4 linked regions of the Homo sapiens genome follow. The protein of the gene in region 2 purifies or fractionates together with the protein of the main gene of each other region. This does not show direct contact. Each region holds a gene or a part of one and is shown on either strand. Other genes may lie near its edges.

What was found.
Region 1: the proteins of IFIH1 (region 2) and ARRDC4 purify together in Homo sapiens (affinity purification with western blotting; one study listed by BioGRID). This does not show direct contact.
Region 3: the proteins of IFIH1 (region 2) and DDHD2 purify together in Homo sapiens (co-immunoprecipitation; one large-scale study listed by IntAct). This does not show direct contact.
Region 4: the proteins of IFIH1 (region 2) and ABHD10 purify together in Homo sapiens (co-immunoprecipitation; one large-scale study listed by IntAct). This does not show direct contact.

Annotation. Positions count from the first base shown.
Region 1 is NC_000015.10:97,958,452-97,963,991, reverse strand, and holds the start of ARRDC4 (arrestin domain-containing protein 4), read right to left. Parts: upstream 3,290-5,540; 5' UTR 3,131-3,289; coding exon 2,824-3,130; intron 1-2,823. UniProt on the Homo sapiens protein: Functions as an adapter recruiting ubiquitin-protein ligases to their specific substrates. Plays a role in endocytosis of activated G protein-coupled receptors (GPCRs).
Region 2 is NC_000002.12:162,311,391-162,316,398, forward strand, and holds part of IFIH1 (interferon-induced helicase C domain-containing protein 1), read right to left. Parts: intron 1-5,008.
Region 3 is NC_000008.11:38,258,113-38,263,073, forward strand, and holds the end of DDHD2 (triacylglycerol hydrolase DDHD2), read left to right. Parts: intron 1-1,927; coding exon 1,928-2,009; 3' UTR 2,010-2,035; intron 2,036-2,451; exon of another isoform or gene 2,452-2,487; 3' UTR 2,488-4,724; downstream 4,725-4,961. UniProt on the Homo sapiens protein: Diacylglycerol (DAG) and triacylglycerol (TAG) lipase required for proper lipid homeostasis in the central nervous system. It cooperates with PNPLA2/ATGL in neuronal TAG catabolism and hydrolyzes sn-1,3 DAG downstream of PNPLA2/ATGL.
Region 4 is NC_000003.12:111,984,554-111,989,514, reverse strand, and holds part of ABHD10 (palmitoyl-protein thioesterase ABHD10, mitochondrial isoform 1 precursor), read right to left. Parts: intron 3,252-4,961; coding exon 3,140-3,251; intron 2,602-3,139; coding exon 2,464-2,601; intron 1-2,463. UniProt on the Homo sapiens protein: Acts as an acyl-protein thioesterase that hydrolyzes fatty acids from acylated residues in proteins.

The DNA of each region.
Region 1 (5,540 bases), on a different chromosome or scaffold from region 2:
TCAGTGGCAGGGCGGGTCCCAGTGGCTGACGTGTGCTCAGGAAGGTAGCAGCAGAGCAGGGACCAGGGAAGCATCTCGACCTGACAGCTGTGGAGTGAAAGGCTCAAGGCAATCCCAGTGCTCCTAAAAGAGCTGGGCTAAAGTTCTAATTTGAAATTACTAGATTACAGAACATGACGAAGTATTTACAAATGTTTTGAAATGTGTATTTCATTTGAGTTTAAAATGTGTAGTGCTTAGATTTCAGGCACCGCAGATAATCCTCAAAGAGACCGGGGGAGGAAAGGAGATTACATGCTTGTACACAAGCAATGACCATGGAGTGCTAGAACCTAGAGCACCCACATAGGAACATGGGTGGGCCCGACATCTTCAGGACCTGAGGGCTGGAATGGAGACAGATAGGAAGGGAAATTTAGATAAGGGAATAGCATGAGGAAGAGCATGGCAGGCATTTGTGGGGAACACAGTTGCCCAGGATACTGAAGAGAATGAGAGACATGAAGTTCCCCTTTCATTAAGCAACAAATCGACATCGGATCTATATCATTTAAAATGAGACTTTCAACTATCTCAAAACATAAACAGGAAAAAGAAATGGAAAAACTGATAAAAATGGGTTATAATATTTGGAATTCAATCTTTGTTTTCTTTTCCTCTTTCTCAAGTTTTGTTTTTAATGTAAAAGGTTCACAAGCTGAACCATGTGCCCATTTCTGCTTCTGCACCAACCGCTCATTATTTCTGTCTTGTATACTGAGCACTACAAAGTCACAGGAAGATGTTTCAATCACTAATGGCCTTACAGCCAAAGCTCATAATTAAAGGTTTTGATGAGCCGTGGGATGCAGAAGACCATTACAGAGGCAGAGACTGGGGCTCAGGAAGGGTGAGGGACTTGCATAAGGTCACACTGCTGGTGGGTGACCAAGAACTGAGACCAACTCTCTGATTCTGGCTTGTTTTCTACTACAGTTTCTCAATAAAAATATGAAGAAAATCAATCACAATGACAGCAAGTAGTTGAATTAGATTAAGGATGTCAAAGAATTATCTGGAGAGCATTTGTGAAAACAGATCCCAGTGCTACATAATATGGATTTCTAAAAATCTCCTTAGGTGATTGAAACACAGCCAGGTTTTGTAATTAAATTACCCCCAGAATCTAGACTGTGTAAAGATGCTAAGTTCTTCCAAGCTATAGATATTAGGGGTGACTTATTTTTTTTCCCCAACTAAAAGAGACTATGATTTTAAGCAAAATGTAATTGTGCCAATATGTGCTATGATACATTCTAAAACAAGTTTAAGATTTTCAAATTGTCTAGTTTTTACATTCTGTTCCACATGTGTATATATGTGTGTGTGTGACGAATAAACATCTGACTTGTGAATTAAAAAAAATGTTAGCCCAGATTTTACCAAAGCAGTTTTTTATTGCTAATCCCAGGTTCAACTGCTTTTAATTTTACATCTATTGACTCAGCAGTTATAGGCCCAGAGATACAGTCCAAAGTCCTGGACAAAAATCAATGTATGTCTCACTCCCAAGGTCCTTGACTCCATTCGGCCATCTTGCAAATTGTATTGTCTGCTTCCACTGGGGCCTGGGTTGATCCTGGAAGCCATACTGAGGAAAGTGCATGAAGGAGTAAGAACTATCACTAACACACTGTTCCCATTGATCCAAAAGGCAGTTTTGGTTCCAAATATAGTTTTCCTCACTACAATTTTGGGATGACTCAGATGATCACTTACCTCGAGGAGTTCACTGTGTCCACAGTAGGATAGGGCAAAACCACATATTCTATTATATTTTGTATAAGACATAGCACATAGATATAATGCGTTTACTCTTCAAGGAGAGGAGGTGCATACCATTGTTTTATTTGATAGATAAAAGCTCATGGCAAAAACGTAAAAGTTTAAACTAGTTTCCATCCATGAAATGAGTAAGACTCATGGTTCTTAGTATTTTCGTGACTAAAGGGATCCAATTTTGGTATCTAATATTAATGAAACGCTCATGTAGTGTGTCCCCACATGGGTACTTCTGGAAAAGTCTACACTGTGAACTGGACTTCACCAAAGTGAGCAGGAAGGGAAATCCCGACACGCCCTGATGCTCTTGTCTCTAAAGGCATTTTGAGTGGAGAGAAGTGGGGGAGAGGGGAAGAAGCGGGTAGGAGGGGAGGAGGAGGATGGGGAGGAAGAGGATGCGGAGGAAACAGCAGCAGTATCAGGTAGAGGTACAACTCTTACTAAGTTGCCCTGCTCCCCAGAAGAGGGAAACCAAGCATGATGATCAAGTCTGGAAAACACTTCCTTTGAACTCCTACCCCTCAGAAACTACTTCCCTATTCCCCAAACCAAATTTCTGCTAATTCATCATGAACCAAGAACGTATGCAGGATAGGGAGGAGTGGAGGCCATAGGACACGGGCACCGCAGAATGGAACCTCATAGCCGCCGGTTCCACCGTCCCTTTCTTGGACCAGAAGGAACAGGACCTAGATTTCTGGATCCCCCATTGTCCAATCACAGGTTCCCACCGCACCCAATGGCCCCCTCCCGTCGCGGTCCTAGAAAATCCCGAGCCACTGGTCCCGGTCAGGCCCGGCGGGCCAGGGGCGGGGCGCCAGGAAGAGCTGCGCACCCAGGACTTGCGGTCTCTCCTTACCCGCGAGGGTAGGCCGGACCCCACCCCCGGAAGCCCGCCCTGATCTCACCTGCCAGGTGGGCATCCCGAGGGTGCGCGGCCTCCCAGCCCCTCCCCGGCCCCGCAGCCTGGCGGGGGAACCCCAGGCGCTCGCCTGCGCTTACCGGCCGGGGGCTCCCGCAGGCTGAGGCGCACGTTCAGGTACTCCACCTCCGAGAAGACAGCCAGGGCCGCGGTGCTGGCCGAGGCGCGGGGGCAGGTGCTCGGGCCCCAGGCGGCGGTGGCGCGCCCCTGGGCCTCCAGGCGCAGCGCGCGCAGGGCCACCGGCTCGGACGCCTCCAGCAGCACGTGCCCGGCCACTGTCTCGCCGCTGGAATAGCAGCCCTTGCGCTCGTCCTCGAACACCAGACCCAGGCTCTTCACGCGGCCCTCGGCACCCACGGCCGCCGCGCACCCAGCCTCCCCGCCCATCCCGCCGGGCGACTCTTTCCTGCCCCTGAGGTCGGCAGAGGCCCGGAGCCGGGGTCGCGAGCACAGCGGCGCCGCTGTCACAGGCGCTCGCGGCAGGGTAAGGCCGCCGCGGCAGCCGTGCGGTACCCGATGGGGCACCGGCTCGCCGAGAGGCCTGTCGCTTTAACAAACCCAGTTGGGCCTGGAAAAGGGCCGGGACAGCCCACCCCCGGCGGGCGGCCATTGGTCAGCTGCGAGCCCTGCTTCTTGCTGATTTGTTGTAGATGGTCACTGAGTCATTTCATTGGCGCTCCCACGCGTGGGTGGGCGCAGGAAGGCCGTGCGTGATCAGGGAGTGTTGGCCAATCGGGAGGCTCCGGCGTGCACGTGCACAGGCCGTTTACTGGCTGAGGCCAGGCACAGTCCTGGAGCCCTGGCCAATAGTGAGGCGGTGCGCCCATGTGGACAGACAGTGGGAAACAGTATCTGTCAGGGAGGGGGCGGAACAGGGTTATCTCCGGCTCTCAGCGTGTCAGCCGTTCCCATAGTTACGAACGGGGGCGGGGTTTCTAGCAGCGTAAGGACTTTGCAGGAGCCACTGGGTTCTCGCTAAAGCATGAAGTTGTGGCTGTAACTGGCTTGTGTTTATGATTACATCTGCAATACTCGAGGGGAAATAGATGCTCTGGGAAACGGAACTCGGCAATATTTCCTTTTGAGATCTTGGGGGCCGGCCGCATCGGGACTTTAATGAATGACTTGGAATCTTCTAACCTCCAGGTTTTTGATCACCGCCTCTCCCAGGTTTCAGAATTCCCAGCCCATGTAAGAGCCATAGATAAGAAAAATGAGGGTTGTGGTTTTAAACCTGATACATCCCCTAAGGAGTTCTCCTCCTAAGCTCCGCAGTGTCGCTGTTAGGAATAGCTGGAACTCTGATTCTTCCTGCTGTAAATAAGATCATGAATCACATTGTTTTTGAACAACATCTGTCACTCAAGTTTCTGCCCCACCCGAAAGTTTCCTGACATCATTGTCATATCCACAGAAATTTCCAATTGCCTTGATGACTTGTTCCTCACGCCCAAGTTTCCTCCGGCTTGTCCTGCTACATTTTCCTTTTCAACCTTCCATTTTTTCTCTGTTCTGTTTTTTACCATCTTGCATAGCTGTCATTAGCTGGTCATCATTTTCTTAACTTTTAAGTTGTCCCCTTATCGACATGCCACGTTTGTGAGCTGTTATGTATTGATTAATCTCACAATGAAATTTAGCAATTTTCCTAAAAAAAAAACCTCAAAGTAAAGGTTGCTCTACTACCCTCGTTGAGTTTAGATTATTAATGTGGAGATTTAGTAAAGTTTTATAAGTTCAAAATTTCCTTATTACCTCTCAGAGAAAGTGGAAAAGTCACAAATTAGGCTCTGTGTAAAGTTCAGAAATAGTTGCTATTCTCTGACCATTTCGTCTAGAATAGCTCCCTACATGATCTTACTCTGCCTACTTTTTTTTTTATATAACACAACGTGACCTTACGTGTTTATCTATGTATTATCCATCCCACTCATTTGAAACACAGAACTTGTTCTCATTCGTTTTTTGACCTCTAGGGCCTAACACAGATCTTAGCATACAGTAAGTGCTCAATAAATGTTGAGTGATTGAATGATGTATCCTAACCGTGTAGTAGTATTGGCTCTGCAATACATGAATAGTGTTCTGCCTCTTACTCTACTAAACTTTCACTGTCTCCAGGCAATGGTTCCCTCCAAATTAAGTGGCTGGGAGAGGGAGAAAAGGACAATGGTCCTAACGGTAATGAAAGGACAAAATGGCAGGTTTTGCATTCTGTACTGGGAAAGACCAGACTCTCTGTTTTCATTTCAGTTAAGAACAGTTTTGGCCAGCCAGGCATGGTGGCTCACACCTGTAATACCAGCATTTCGGGAGGCCGAGGCGGGCAGATCACAAGGTCAAGAGATCGAGACCATCCTGGCCAACATGGTGAAACCCCGTTTCTACTAAAAATACAAAAATTAGCTGGGTGTGGTGGCTCGCACCTGTAGTCGCAACTACTCGGGAGGCTGAGGCAGGAGAATCTCTTGAACCCGGGAGGCGGAGGTTTTCAGTGAGCCGAGATTGTGCCACTGCACTCCAGCCTGGGTAAGAGAGCGAGACTCCATCTCAAAACAACAACAACAAACAATAGTTTTGGCTACAGGTAACAACAGACTGTGTGACCAACACACATTCTGCCTTTAAAAATATTTCTTGTTTACTAGACGAAAAGGTCAGTAGTAGAGTATGGGCCCTTCAGATTGATTCATCAGAATCCTTTTATCTTTCTCTTTGACATACTCTGCTCCCTTCATCGTAGTAGGGATTACCACAGCTCTAAGTGTCTCCTTGTCTTCCTTACACCACAGAGTTC
Region 2 (5,008 bases):
TCCTTTCTTCATGATTATCATTATGAAATAAGTAATTACTACTGCAGATTTATATTTTTTCCTATGTAATATTTGCATAGTTGATTATTACTATAATCAATTTTTCTCAAATTTGTGTTTTTTTAATGTTATGGGAAATTTATTGTTATATCTTTTTTTTGGAAATATGGGGCAGAATTATTTTTATATCCATTCATTAGAGTCTTTAGCCTTCTTTTATTTTCTCTTTTAGATTAGTAAATTTCTTTTAAATGTGGATCTTTTGTGTAATCATTGTCACAGTGCATTTCCCTAGGTCCTAATATAGCAATAAGGATTTGGAGGAAAGAGTAACTCAAGCCATGTTTAGACATGAAAGAAGTTAGGCAGGACATCATTAGCTTTCTGTGGCATTAGGCAATTTACTTCATCTCCCTAGACCTTGGTTACAATATGTGGTTACAAGGCAGCTGAAAAGAAATTTCAGAGTTTCTATATCTTAGCTGCATGTTAGAAACAACCGTAAAGCCTTAAAAAATACTGATGTCTAGGAAACACCCCTAAAAGATTATGATTTATTTTGTCTATGTTAGGAACTCAGATATTAAAGAAAAAGTAAAACATCTCATGTGATTCTATCAGCCTCCCAGATAAGAAATATTGACTTTGATATTATCAAAGGTCCTTCTCAACATTTGCCAATCTTCCACATGTATCATTTGGATTGTTTAGTTCTTTCCTACAAATTTATGTATTTTCTAGTTCTATAAATATATTCCATAACCTTTTATGTCAGAAATTTGTTAACATTTTTGGAACAATGTCTGGCACTAATTCAGTGTTAGAACTATTATGGATGATTGGGAAGAGTTATTGTTACAAACACCTCACCTGCACAAGCACATACAGCATGGTCTCTACCCAAGGGATATTTCCGTCTTAGCATCTAGTAGTTAAGCATGCTGTTCTAGGGAACTTGAATATATTAACCCAGCAGCCCAGAAATAGGTACCAATATTAACTCATTTACAGATCAGAAATCCGAGGCACAGAGATGTTTAGGTACCTCTCTGAGGTCACAAAGTGAGTAAGTGGCAGAAGTAGAATTTGATCCCAGGCAGTTGAATTTAGAGGCTGAATCCTGCCTTCTTGAACTATAATTATAGCTTATAATTTTCTCCAATTTTAAATTCATTTTCTGGCAAGAAGTGGTTAAAAATAACTATTTGAACTCAGTAAATTTCAAGTGAATTCAGTCCATGTCACCCACAACATTTTCTAAGCAGATTTTTGCTCATTTTTTACCATTTTTTTCTAGCTCTCTTAGTCTCCTAATGGAAATTCTTTGGCTTCCCTGATGTTGTAACATCTTTATTATCATCTGCTAATTTAACAAGTAATTGCTATAGATGTAAATAAGACTGGTTTCAGTGTCTTCTTTTAACTCAGCCATTCTCATATTTTATTACCCCATCCTTTAATCAGCTTTAAATATATTTGACTGAAGCAATCAGGAAGGATTTCCTTAAAAAGAACCAGTGAGGCAACAAATGCTGTTATTAAAAATCCCTAAGCATATTCTATCCACAAAATTTTCTTCAACCACTATTCTATTAAGTCAACTTTTACTGTGGAATCATATTTTTCAAGCTTTCTTTGCCGTTATTGAGTCCAAGCATATAAGGATCATGATGTCATTATTTCCTAAACATATTCTTACAATTTGAATGTGGAACTACATATATCTGTGCAATTTTAGCAGCCTCATCAAGATGCTGAATTTTTAAGAAATCTTCTCAGTTTTGGTGCTGGAAAGTACATCAGCTCCCTTTGAAGCAATTATATAATTTTAAAAATTTAATATGTTCTCCTAAAACATTGTAAAGATATTGATCCCAATATGTAAACACAATTACAGAAATTCGTGGGAGGTGAATATTTACATTTGAGACTGCAACAAGTCATAAAACAATTCTCACCCATGCCCCTCCCCCACTCGAAGTTTTCTCTGTGAAGTTAAAAATGGATGGATGTTTTCACTATGTAGTCTATTAATACATTGTTAACTAATTTATGAAATACGAAATAAAATTAATTTGGTAATAATACAACTCAATGCTTTCATATTCTAAATTCTTTGATATGTTTTTTCTTTCCAACAGAAATCAGTGAAGAAACCAATGACATTTCCATAAAGCACTGGCTTACCAACACAATTGTACAGTTTAATGAAAATGTTTTCTTCCCTTTATAATAACCTTAGATAGCTATTTAAATATAATGGTGATTTTTTTAACCCAGCAGAGTTCAACTCTCAGATAAAAGTAAATCAGGAGGCAAAACCTGTATGTTAAAAAAGAATTTTAAAGAACCAGTTTCCCACAAAAAGTTAATGTCTTAACCCAATGAATATTTATTGTCACATTGACATAGCTAATTTCTTATTCATACTTTTTTTTTTGCAGATGAAATTCTTATCTTTCCTAATTTGCCAGACAATACAATGTTCCTGGGGAGATTGACTTGGGTGCTCAACTTCATGTTGGGAGAACTGGACTGTTCTTAGGTGGACTAGTCATGGCATCTCTGGTTCTTCTGTGTAAATGGAAGGTGTGTGGAGTCTCCAGGACTACAGATGCATTGTGTTCTGAACTGGCCAGGGATGAAACATGCATCTCTCTTTAGCTGTTCAGCTTGATTATTAAGACACTATGGAAATGTTTATATGATCACTTTCGTTCCCAGAGTTCATGACTGCCTAAATTGATGGGTGTGCCAAGTTGTAACTTAGTTATAACTAAGATGTAACAATGCCAAATTGTAACTTAGCATCCTAAAAGAGGAGCAAGGCAGTACAGGGGTACCCCCTTACCATTAAGGATTGCTTTATTATAATGATTGATAAAATGGCATATATTTATTGCTGAAACTCTAGTATTTAGAATAGTCCCTTGTATACAGTAGACATTCTTCTTTCCTTCCTTCCTTTCTTCCTTCCTTCCCTCCCTCCCTCCCTCCCTCCCTCCCTCCTTTCTTTCTTTCTTTCTTTTCTTTCTTTCTTTCTTTCTTTCTTTCTTTCTTTCTTTCTTTCTTTCTTTCTTTCTTTCTTTCTTTCTTTTTCTTTCTCTCTTTCTTATTAGATGGAGTCTCGCTCTGTCACCAGGGTGGAGTGCAGTGGCGCCATCTCAGCTCACTGCAAGCTCCGCCTCCCAGGTTCATGCCATTCTCCTGCCTCAGCCTCCCGAGTAACTGGGACTACAGGCTCCCACCACCACACCCAGCTAATTTTTTTGTATTTTTAGTAGAGACGGAGTTTTACCGTGTTAGCCAGGATGGTCTCCATCTCCTGACCTCGAGAGCCACCCTCCTCGGCCTCCCAAAGTGCTGGGATTACAGGCGTAAGCCACCATGACTGGCCTACAGTAGACATTCTTTTATCAACACTAATTAACACTACAACACAACTTCACGAAAGGACAAAACAGTCTCTGTGTTTTTCTCCTATCTTTTCACCACTAGCATGGCATCCGGCACAAAGATGCCACTCAATAAATTCAAACTGAATGAATGAGTGAATGAATGAATAAGTTTTTGGGTACTTGCTGGACACAAACCTATGTATAAAGTCATTTTCAGAAGGCCTGCTGTAATTACGGGCAGGGGCTAGGAAATGGGGTGGGAATCCTAAATTAAAATAATAGATCAAGTAGAAAATGTCTATGGGGAAACAGAAAAAGAATGAAAATACAAGACCATTTTATAGAAGTCTTGATTACTTAGTTAAATGCTATTTTAAGCCTTCAAAAAAGCAAATTTGGAAATCTTATTTTCATCATTCATCCATTCTCTAACGCCTGGCAACACAATTCAATACGTCATGTGTTTTCAACGCTTATTCCAGACACTTTCAGAAATAAATTCAATTAGTCTATCAATCAAGTAATCAATGCTTACTAAACACCAACCCTCTACCTAATCCTAGTTAGGTTCTGGGATGAAAGAGGTAATTTCTTTTTCAAATCAGTATAATCTAGGGACTTTAAGAAGTATATCTCAATTGCGACATGGGGAATTTACCTCAATCTCTCAAACTTAAATTTACACAGAAATGTAACCAGATGAATGGTTACAAAAGTCAACACCATTATCATATCAAATAGCTCTGATTTATAAGCTTTTTCATAAACACTATTTCTGATTTGATGTTGACTAAAATACTGTGAGAAATTTTATGATGTCCATTTTCACAGGTAAATGTAGCATCAGGGAACTTCAGTAATTTGGCCCAAAGTAACGCATATAGTAAGAAGCCAAGATGGACCTCAAATCCATGTGTTCCCCTTCTACAGTCTTATCACACTTTGCTGCTGTAAGATAAACATTTGTCAATGACCACCACCTCAATATAGATTATTCTACCAAACTTAATGCTTCCGTCTCATTGTCCACCATATCTTAGTTTTGGAACTGATAATACATGTAAATGATGCACACAAAAATTATTCCACACTCTCACAGAGAAACTATTGCTTCCTAGAGAGCCTCAAATTTATAGCTGCTCAGTCTTTTGGGGCCTCCTTTGAAATGTGAATCAGAGGGAGAATTTGGGTTGTTTTGGCCTTAACTGCTACCAGTACACAAAAGTCCCGTTACTCTATATCTTCTTTGTGTCAAATCCCTTGCATTACTGCTAGCTGCCTCCAAGCTTGCCAGAATCAAGAACTTGGATAAAATCTAGCTGGCGGAAATTCAATCCAGGCAAGACAAAAGTGATGCTGATAGGCAGAAGTATTTAGAGTAAATAGGGAGAAGTGCTGTTTCGCTGGCAATCGGGACATCATACCCACCAAACATAAACAGCTTTGTGGTGTTACTGGACTCTGTTGCTTCTGGACTTCTAACAGCTACTGTGGCTGGAAATGCCATCTTCCATCTCCAGCTGGCTTGAAGGCTGCATACTTTCTTCCAAATTAAGATTCTGCCACAGTGATGTACACATTTGTCATATCCAGCTGGACTACTATAATGC
Region 3 (4,961 bases), on a different chromosome or scaffold from region 2:
GGTGTGCAACACCATGCCTGGCTATTCTAATATTTTATATCTAATTTTTACATATAAATCTTTGATTCAGATTCAGGTCCTTTTTTCCCCACGTCTCAACACTATTAATAGATTTGAGATTCTAAATTAAATTAATTAAATTCTTTTTTTTTTTTTTGAGACAGAGTCTTGCTGTGTTGCCCAGGCTGAAGTGCAGTAGTGCAGTAGTTGGCTCACTGCAACCTACGCCATCTGGGTTCAAATGATTTTCCTGCCTCAGCTTCTTGAGTAGCCGGGACTATAGGCATGTGCCACCATGCCCAGCTAATTTTTGTATTTTTAGTAGAGATGGGGTTTCACTATGTTGGCCAGGCTGGTCTCGAACGCCTGACCTCAGGTGATCTGCCTGCCTCGACCTCCCAGTGTTAGGATTATAGGTGTGAGCCACCGTGCCTGGCCACTTAATTAAATTCCTATACATAAATGGGACTATTTCTCAACTTCTTACTTGTTGATTTGCTTATTTATGTACCATTTTAATATCTGATAGAGCTAATTCCCACTTGTTGATACAGGAATTTCTTAAGCTGGGGTCTGTGTATATGAGTTTGTGGGAGATGAGGGAAGTCTGTGAATCCAATGAAATACACATTTATAATTGTGGTTGCAATGTGATCCTTTCTGGGGAAGAATCCGTAATTTCATTAGATTCTCAAAAGGATGCATGACTCAATAAATGTTGAACCACAGATCTAGAAGAATAATAGAGGCTTATATCCTTAAGGCAGTCCCTCATGAGTGTTAATCTTTTTAAATCAAATTTTGTTATGAAGTGTGGATATAAGTAATTGCTTGTGCATACGTAGAATAATATCTGGAAAACGCATGAGAAATTGATAACATTGGTTGTCAGAAGATGGGAACTGGTGGTGGTTGAGGAACAAAGGTGGGAGGGAGACTTCGTTACTTTCTTATATTGTTGGAATTTGGAACCTTATGATTGTATTACCTTTTCCAAAAAGTGCATAATATTTTAAAAATTAAGGTGACCAACTGGATAACTCTTCAATAGTGTCTCTAGAATGATCTCTGTGGAAAAGGAACAATTCTTGGTTATTTCTTACTGGCTTTTTTTTTTTTTGAAATGGAGTCTCACTCTGTCGCCCAGGCTGAAGTGCAGTGACACTCTGCAACCTTCGGCTCACTGCAACCTTTGCCTCCTCGGTTCAAGCGATTCTCCTGCCTCAGCCTCCTGAGTAGCTGGGACTACAGTCGCATGCTGCCACGCCTGGCTAGTTTTTTTTTTTTTTTTTTAGACGGAGTCTCGCCTATCTGCCAGGCTGGAGTGCAGTGGTGCAATCTCGGCTCACTGCAACCTCCGCTTCCTGGGTTCAAGCAATTCTTCTGCCTCAGTCTCCCCAGTAACTGGGACTACAGGCGCATACCACCACACCCTGCTAATTTTTGTATTTTTAGTAGAGATGGGGTTTCACCATATTGGCCAGGCTGGTCTCAAACTCCTGACCTTGTGATCCACCCACCTTGGCCTCCCAAAGTGCTGGGACTACAGGCGTGAGCCACCGTGCCCAGCCCTAGTTTTTGTATTTTTAGTGGAGATGGGGTTTCACCATGTTGGCCAGGCTGGCTCAAATTCCAGACCTGTAGTGACTTGTCCACCTCAGCCTCCCAGAGTGTTAGGATTACAGGCATGAGCCACCGCACCTGGCCTCTCTTCCTAGCTTTTTTATATTACTAGACTTAATGCCAGAGTTCTTTGCCAGGTCACCTTCCAAACCACTGCCAATTACATTACTTCTGAATCTCATTTCTTTGCAGAAGTAAAAAATAAACTTGCAAGATGGTTGTATGGATTAAATGAGATAATATATGTAAAACATTTGGCACAAGTGTTAGTTCCTTTTCTCAACATAATTTTTTCTCTTTATAGGGAGTCTGAAGATACAGTATTGCTCGTCCTCAAAGAGATCTACCAAACCCAGGGTATCTTCCTTGATCAGCCTTTACAGTAAAAATGACCCATCTATGGCTGCTTAATGTAAGTTTTAAAATGTCATATATATAGTGTAATTCTTACATATTAACATGTTATAATGAACTATGGAGCCTCAAGCTCTTTTTAAATATACTAGCTGTTGCCTGTCACCAAGATCTAGGCTGCTATTCATTTTTAGAGGGACTGGTAGAAATTCATGGGGAAAAAAACACAGTAGCCCATTTAGAGGAAGATTAGTGTATGTCTGTTTTGCTAGAGATTTTGTCCAATGACACCTGTCATTTTTTAGGATCTAAACTCAGAGTTTTAATGGTTCTGTTATCTAAGAGTTACTGTGGCAACAGTTATGATTTTAATTACCAACCACCCATCCTGAGATTTAAATTACTCAGCCTTTTAGATGTGAAATTACAAAGTCTGTGTATTCGACTCTGGCATTCTCTGTGGTTGCCTTCCAGTTGTGACTGCAGCTCTTCTCCCACTTTCTTCCCTAGACGGACATTGAGGGATCCTTCCCCAGAAAATCCACCTGTTTGTTGCTGCAATTTTCCTCTCCTCAGCTGCGTCATTTCCTGCATGTTGCCTGCCACTTACTCACCACTGGGGTCTTTGGAAGATAATCTTCCTCTTTGGAAATGAATGGAAAAGCAAAAGGCCCTATTACTTTTAACCACTGGCTTCATATAAACACTTGCCATTTTTTTCTGCATAGCTGGGGGTGGTTTGTGTCTTTAATTCTTTGATGATAGTTTATAGTTGCCACACTTTATTGATTAGTACTTGACAGGGTGTAAAGCCTATTTTGGGTTTGATTTGTTTTGGGTGGGGTAGACATGTTTTTAAGGAACTTATTGCTTATCTTTAGAAAATGTTCTAGTTTGGAAACAGATTCTTGAGATTCAGAAGGCATTTTGGAGTACACTTATCTCTTGTTTGTGTTGAACTGAAGGCTAAGTCTCAGTGGACATGGAAAAGACTTTTGGGTGATTTATTTTTGAACCTGCATTTCTTTCTTATGTGTAGTGTATGAAGAAAGACTAGAATGTAGCTTTAAAAAAGTGTTGTTTACTCTCTTAGAACTGACAGACTTATTGCCAGAAATCACTGATGTTCATTGTTTTTGCAACTGTTTGAGCTGCTGTAAGAGTCTAAAGTTGACAAGTTAGTTCATGTTAGGTGCATCTTTATAAAGCAAAGATGTTGTATATCCTAGGCCTCCCTTTTATATTTGATAGAAGTTATTTGCTAATAGCTTCTATTCTTACGTTGAAAATAGTTGTAAAAGCTGATGAACCTGAAATTGTGTAGCCTCTACAGGCTGCTGAGGTTCTAAATAAAACCTTTTAGTGGTGCCTTTATGGTGAAACAGAATTTGTCACCTGCCATTTCTACTTGAGCTAAGGTAGTATTGTGTATCCTCTTTCCTTCTTAGGTATCCATAATCCACAAAGCATATTTAAAAGGCTCTTGGCACGGGCAGCATTGGTTGAGCAGGTAGGTTTGGCTAGGGGGAAATGTTTAACTTGTTCTGAAAGAAAAACTTATGTCTGTAGGGTCCAAGAAACAGCTATTCCAGAGTCAGTGTCAGCTGAGTCTGGAACATATGAAGTGAGGTTTACTTCTAAGAACACAAGTGACTGCACACTAATTTTGTCAAGGCATCTTTTCACTACTTTGCTGTAGATTTTTCTTCTTCATTGGTCAGTTTGTCATTGTCTTTGTAGTTCTCTTTATGATAATCCTTTATACTTGCTCTCAGATTCCACAGGCCTCTGTTTATAGAGTGGCAAAGGCAGGCGAGCTGTGGTTTATTGTTTATAAATTTTTTTATAAATGTTATGGTATTCAAAGCCACTGACATTTAATATTTACTGAAGCCATTCCTTAGACAGCAGTGGTCTTTATCCCTTTCTGGAAAGAAAAGGAAAATGAAGGGTAATTACTGTCACCATGGAGATTGTAGAGGTAAGGTTGGGGTATAGGTCAGGCCTGGCCTTTCTTTGTCATCTGCTTATAGTCTAGTGCTAAGTATGCCACTAAGTTTCAGATATATGGAATACTTTATTTTTTTAAAGGTATATAAACTCTGAGTTATTGAGAATTAAGTATTCACTGTATATTAAGGGGAAGCTTTTGCCAAGTTGTGGTCTTCAAATTTATGTTTACTCTTCCTATTGGCAGAATAGGTGCTATTTAAGAGTAAACCAAAGGATAAGCAGAGGGAGTCCCTATAACCAAAGATGGACAGCATAGCCCTGGATAGCCAGATAAACCACTCTTTGTATTAAGAAATGTTTCTTTCCTAGTGGTGAGGGGTGGGTAACTGTGAAAGAGCTTTATATCTTGTCTATTCATGGTATTATAGCTGTATATTCCCAGGATGATAAGCTTGATTGAAATCCTGTATTTAGTCATATATTATTTGCGCTGCTTCATTTGTATCATGTGCAATCTCTAGACCAACCCTATTTTTAAACTCTGGTACAGCATCATTTTGTACATATTCCCAGCTGCAGAACTAGTATCACTTATCTCAGCAAAAGAGATTGTTTGCATGGAAAGATTAATAGCACTGATTAGATTTCTAATATTTTGCATTTTTGAAATGTTTGTTTTCTACGTGATTATATTTAAAACTTTAGTAAATACTAACATGAAACCATATTGACTAGTGGCCTACTTTTACCTGGACTCACCCGTCTCAAAGTCAAGAAAATCAGTACAGTCACGATTTTCTCTGTCTTTATGTATTACTAAAACAAAAAAATAGGTTTTGGGCAAAGAACTAATATGTAAGTTCTTTCCTGTTGACTGGTATTTTAATTGTCATAGGCAGAATTTAAGTTCAGAATTTAAAGCATGGCAATTATAAGAGACTTTCCTTTGGTATTTATAAATATTAGCCAGTACTATAGATAACAGCAGTTGAATCACTTAGGGCGGATGGGGAATTCAATGTTTTGCTTTA
Region 4 (4,961 bases), on a different chromosome or scaffold from region 2:
TGGCCCCCAACTAGCTCTGCTACCTGCCACTGAATTGAATGAAAATGGTCCATCTGAAGAACAAAGTTAACTTTATAAAATGTTGTATGTCTCAAGTCCTCAAGAACAAAAAGTTCAGAAACAGCAAAGACATTACCCAAAGAAAATGTACAATATATTAAGTTCTACATCAACAAAACTTATCAAGGCAATGTGGTTCAGAAGCTTACATTCCCAACAGCTGTGCATCATGTCTGAGGCCCTCTAGTGTCCAAAGAAGGTGATAATGATTAGAGTCAGTTAAAGAGGATGGTCAAGTTCTTAGAGAAGAAATGAGAAATGCTGGGCTTACTATTCCCAGGGTTATAAAAGATAGTAAAAATCTCCACATCTGCTCCGTTGACATTGTTAGGGCTAGCTGTTTATGTGGAGAAGAGATAGCGGTCTTAGTGTTGGTGCTCTTTCCTTATACATGCTTTTAAGTTAACCAAGGGCTCAACATGCTTCTGTTAACAACTGCTTATCTGAGTAAGTATTAGCAAAAAATGCCTTGATTTGCAGATTATAAATCTTCTCAATTAGAAAGTATCTACCCTATGCTCACTCTGACTGATGTGAACACACACACACGCAGAGAAATGTACATGGCCAGGCACAGTGGCTTGTGTCTCTAATCTCAGCACTTTGGGGGTCCAAGGCAGGAGAATCTCTTGAGCCTAGGAGTTCAAGACCGGCCTGGGCAACATGGCGAGACCCCATCGCTACAAAAAATACAAAAATCAGCCAGGCATAGTGGTGTGCACTTGTGGTCCCAGCTACTCAGGAGGCTGAGGTGGGAGGATCTCTTGAGTCTGAGGGGTCAAGGCTGCAGTAAGCAATGACTGCACCACTGCACTCCAGCCTGGGCAACAGAGATACCCTAAAAACCCCCCCAAATAAAAACAAAACCAAAACAAATGTACACAGGTTTTGTCATTTACCAATAATTACAAAATACAATAAACCCCCAACCCCCAAAAATCAACTCCTTTTCAATCTGCTATGTCTTTGAGATAATTTCCTACCCAAGAAGCGCTGTATTATTGAGTTAAGAGGATGGAGCAAGGAGTCCACATTTAGATCCACAAAATGTCAAAGGTGGGAAAAACATGAAGACATTGAGCAACTATGTATGAGAAACCACCAAGAAAGTGAACAAAATTCAGAAACAGGAGATAAGTTCAAGGAAGACCAGCTTTGTAATTTCAGCTCTGATAGGAAATAATATGAGAAACCTGAATACACACACAATGCTATTTCTTAAGGAGCTTAAAACAACGTGAACTAAGAATGAACTTAGTTAATATATGGCACAGGTATTAATGCAGAACTTGAGGCAAATCAATGACATTCTACTATTCAACACTGCATACGTTTTTTCTTCTTTTTTTTTAAATTTCTGAACCTCCTTCTCCTCTTCCCCCATTCTCTAAAGCATTGTTCTCAAACTTTACAAGAGGTTTGTTAAAACACAGACTGCTGGGCCATACCCCCAGTTTCTGATTCAGGGTAAAACCCAAGAATTTGGGTTTCTAACAAGTTCTCAGGTGCTGCTGCTGCTGCTAGCCTAGGGACCATATTTTTTAACTACTGCTCTGTTTTCTTTAATTTCTGTGTCTCTGTCACTCTGACTGACAATATCTGTCTGGAGAGTTCTGTTGGGAGGAACTGAGGCTGCTTTTAGGCTAAAACAAAGACAGTCAGCTCTCCATATTCATGGTTTCTGCATCCATGGATTCAACTAACTTTGTATCAAAAATATCTGGAAAAAAAAGGTTACCTCTGTATTGAACGTGTACAGTCTTTTTTTCTTGTCCGTATTCCCTAAACGATACAGTATAGCAACAATTTACATAGCGCTTACATTGTACTAGGTATTTTAAGTAATCTGGCAATGATTTAGATTATACAAGATTATGTGCAAATACTACACCATTTTTTTTCTCAGAGACTTGACCATCTGTGGATTTTGGTATCCATGGGAGGTCTTGGAAGCAATCCCCTTCAGATACCAAGGGATGACTGCAGTTTCAGTTCATTAGCCCACTCTAACATAGTCATAAGAACAGGCACTACTCCCCATATGCCACAAAGTAAGAGGACCAAAAGGAGATCACGATGTATGATTCAAATAAGTAAATGTAATAATAAAGAAAATGTGGCTAAAAAAAAAGAAACTTCAAAGTGTGATATTGTTAATGTGTCTCAAATATTTGGCAGAATGATTTGAAGAGACTATGAAGAAACGAAATCTTAAACAAGATGACAAATAGTTAAAGATAGAAAAGAGGTTGTGTACAGAAAGGCAGCTAAGACAAAAGTTGGGCCAGCACAGTAAGTCAAAGGAATTATTGTTTTCTGTCCCCCCTTCCCTCAAAGAAAGAGGGAGCAGAAGAAGTATAAGCGGTAAATATATTGAGGTGGCAAAAGTGACTTTTGACTTACCTCAACAGGAAGCTGATTAAACTTTGTCACTAAGGTATCTGCAGCTGTAGCTACACCAATAAGAGCCACGACCTTCTCTGGTCGTGCAATTGCAGCATGAAGCATAAGCCACCCTCCAAGGCTAGATCCAACAAGAATCTAAAAATAAAATAAAATAAAACATTAGGTCTTTAAGATAGAACAGGTTATAAACATAAAACAAAATATGTACAATAAAAAATTAGAAAGTAAAAATAGAATCATTTTAAATCAAATATCAAAATGGATTAAACATTTAAATTAAATAAAAACATTTTCATATCTAAAGAAACAGCTTAGGCCGGGTGTGGTGGCTCACGCCTGTAATCCCAGCACTTTGGGAGGCCCAGGCGGGCGGATCACGAGGTCAGGAGATCGAGACCATCCTGGCCAACACGGTGAAACCCCATCTCTACTAAAAATACGAACAATTAGCCGGGCGTGGTGGCGGGTGCCTGTAGTCCCAGCTACCTGGGAGGCTGAGGCAGGAGGATGCCGTGAACCCGGGAGGCAGAGCTTGCAGTGAGCCAAGATTGCGCCACTGCACTCCAGGCTGGGTGACAGCACGAGACTCCATCTCAAAAAACAAAACAAAACAAAACAAACAGCTTAAATACGAGGTTACAGTAATTATCATCATACTTAACAAAACAGTCACCTGTGGCCCATCAGCTAAGTCATCAATTATAGAAAGAACATCTTTTCTCCATTTCCCCAGTGTGCTTTCCTCTGAGTTACCATCTGAACTTCCAACTCCTGAGTAATCAAACCTGGAAAAAGGGGAAAAAAATCTATATCTAAATATCTATATATCTGCTTCTTTAATTTTTAAGAAAGATAGCACCTTCCTCATTACTATAATGCTTATAGTGAAACATCACAATCAATATGTATTTTAGCAAATTCTATTGGCTTATTAACTTTCAAATACCTCCTGTGTCCAATCACTTTCTCACCTCCTCCACTGCTACCAGCCTGTTGCTAGTCACACTGTCTCTCAACCTAACTGAATGCAATAGTCTCCTAAAAAGTCTCCTGTTTGCATTTTCACACTCATTGTCTTTCCCTATATAGTAGAGTGATCCTTTTAAAACAAAACCATGTCTTGCAAACCCTCCAAAGGCTTTCTATAATCTTTAAATCCAGAGCCCTTACCATACTTTGGTGCCTGATCACCTCTCTGATCTCATTTCTCATTGTTTTCTCTCTCTCCCTCCCTCCCTCCCAACTGTATCTTCGCTTTGCTTCTTGAAGCTCCCATCTCATCAGCTTTTCTCTCCACATGGCATACTCTCCTCCAGATAGCCATTTAGATTGCTCCCACACTTCATTCAGGCCTTTGGCTCAAATATTACATCCTCAGAAAAGCCTCCCATGACCATTCAATTATTAAAACTGTGCTGCTTTCATCATTCTCTAATTCTTTACTCTGCTTCATTTTCTTCATAGCACTTATTACTACTTGAGATATATTTGATTATTTATGGTCCATCTCCCACATTAGAATGAAAGTTCCACATGGGCACAAGCTTTGTTTCAATGCGTTCCTAGTGCCTAGTTCAGTTCCTTGCGAGTGGTAGGTGCTTAGTGTATATTTAGTGAATTGATGGAAGGGAAGGAGACCAGAATAAAATTCATCATCACCAACCCATCCCTTTCTCCTTCCAACTTCCTAGTTATCTAGGCTCAGTTATCTGTCTGATCTATGAATTTTACCTCTCCTTAAGGGTATCAAATCAATAAAAAATCATGGTGGTATAAAGTATCATACCACACCCACAGGTTACCTAAACTCTAGTCATACTGAACTACTCCTAATTCCCAGTTACACCCTTTTATAACTTAGAGCCTTAGCATGCTGTTCTGCTGCCAAGAACAGCTTCCTCCCCAACCCAAATTCGTAGTCACCCTTTAAGTCATGTCACCTCCTCTGAGGAACTTCACTTGACATATATGCCCCATTTAGTACCAGTCACTTTCTTTTGTATGTACTCAACACTTTTCATATTGTATTGTAATCAAGTTTGTTTTTAAACATTCATCTCCCTCTGACTAGAATGTCAGTTCCTTAAGAGGAGGCTGTTTTATTCGTTTGTTTTTCCAGGCCACAGAATACTGCCTGCCCTATACCATCACCATTCTTTCTCATTTCTTCTTATGTTCATCCCTTTCTTGGTACTTTGGTAAGTCCAGTATCTTGGTGTAGGTGTTTATTTGTCATCTTAGACCTAGACTATCACAGTAGCCTTCTATCTTGTGTCTCTATGACTCTGTCTTTAAATAGAGTCACTATATACATGTCAGTTTTTTTCTTTAACATTTTAGCATTACCTTCAGTGCTCCCTGTGATATACAACATAAACACTTAGTGCTTTGGCCTGTTTTTTTGAACCATTATATTCTGGTCATTTCAGATTGATTTCACAATAAATTTTACAGTAAATTTTTTTTTACTACTAAATTTTACAGTAGTACTCACT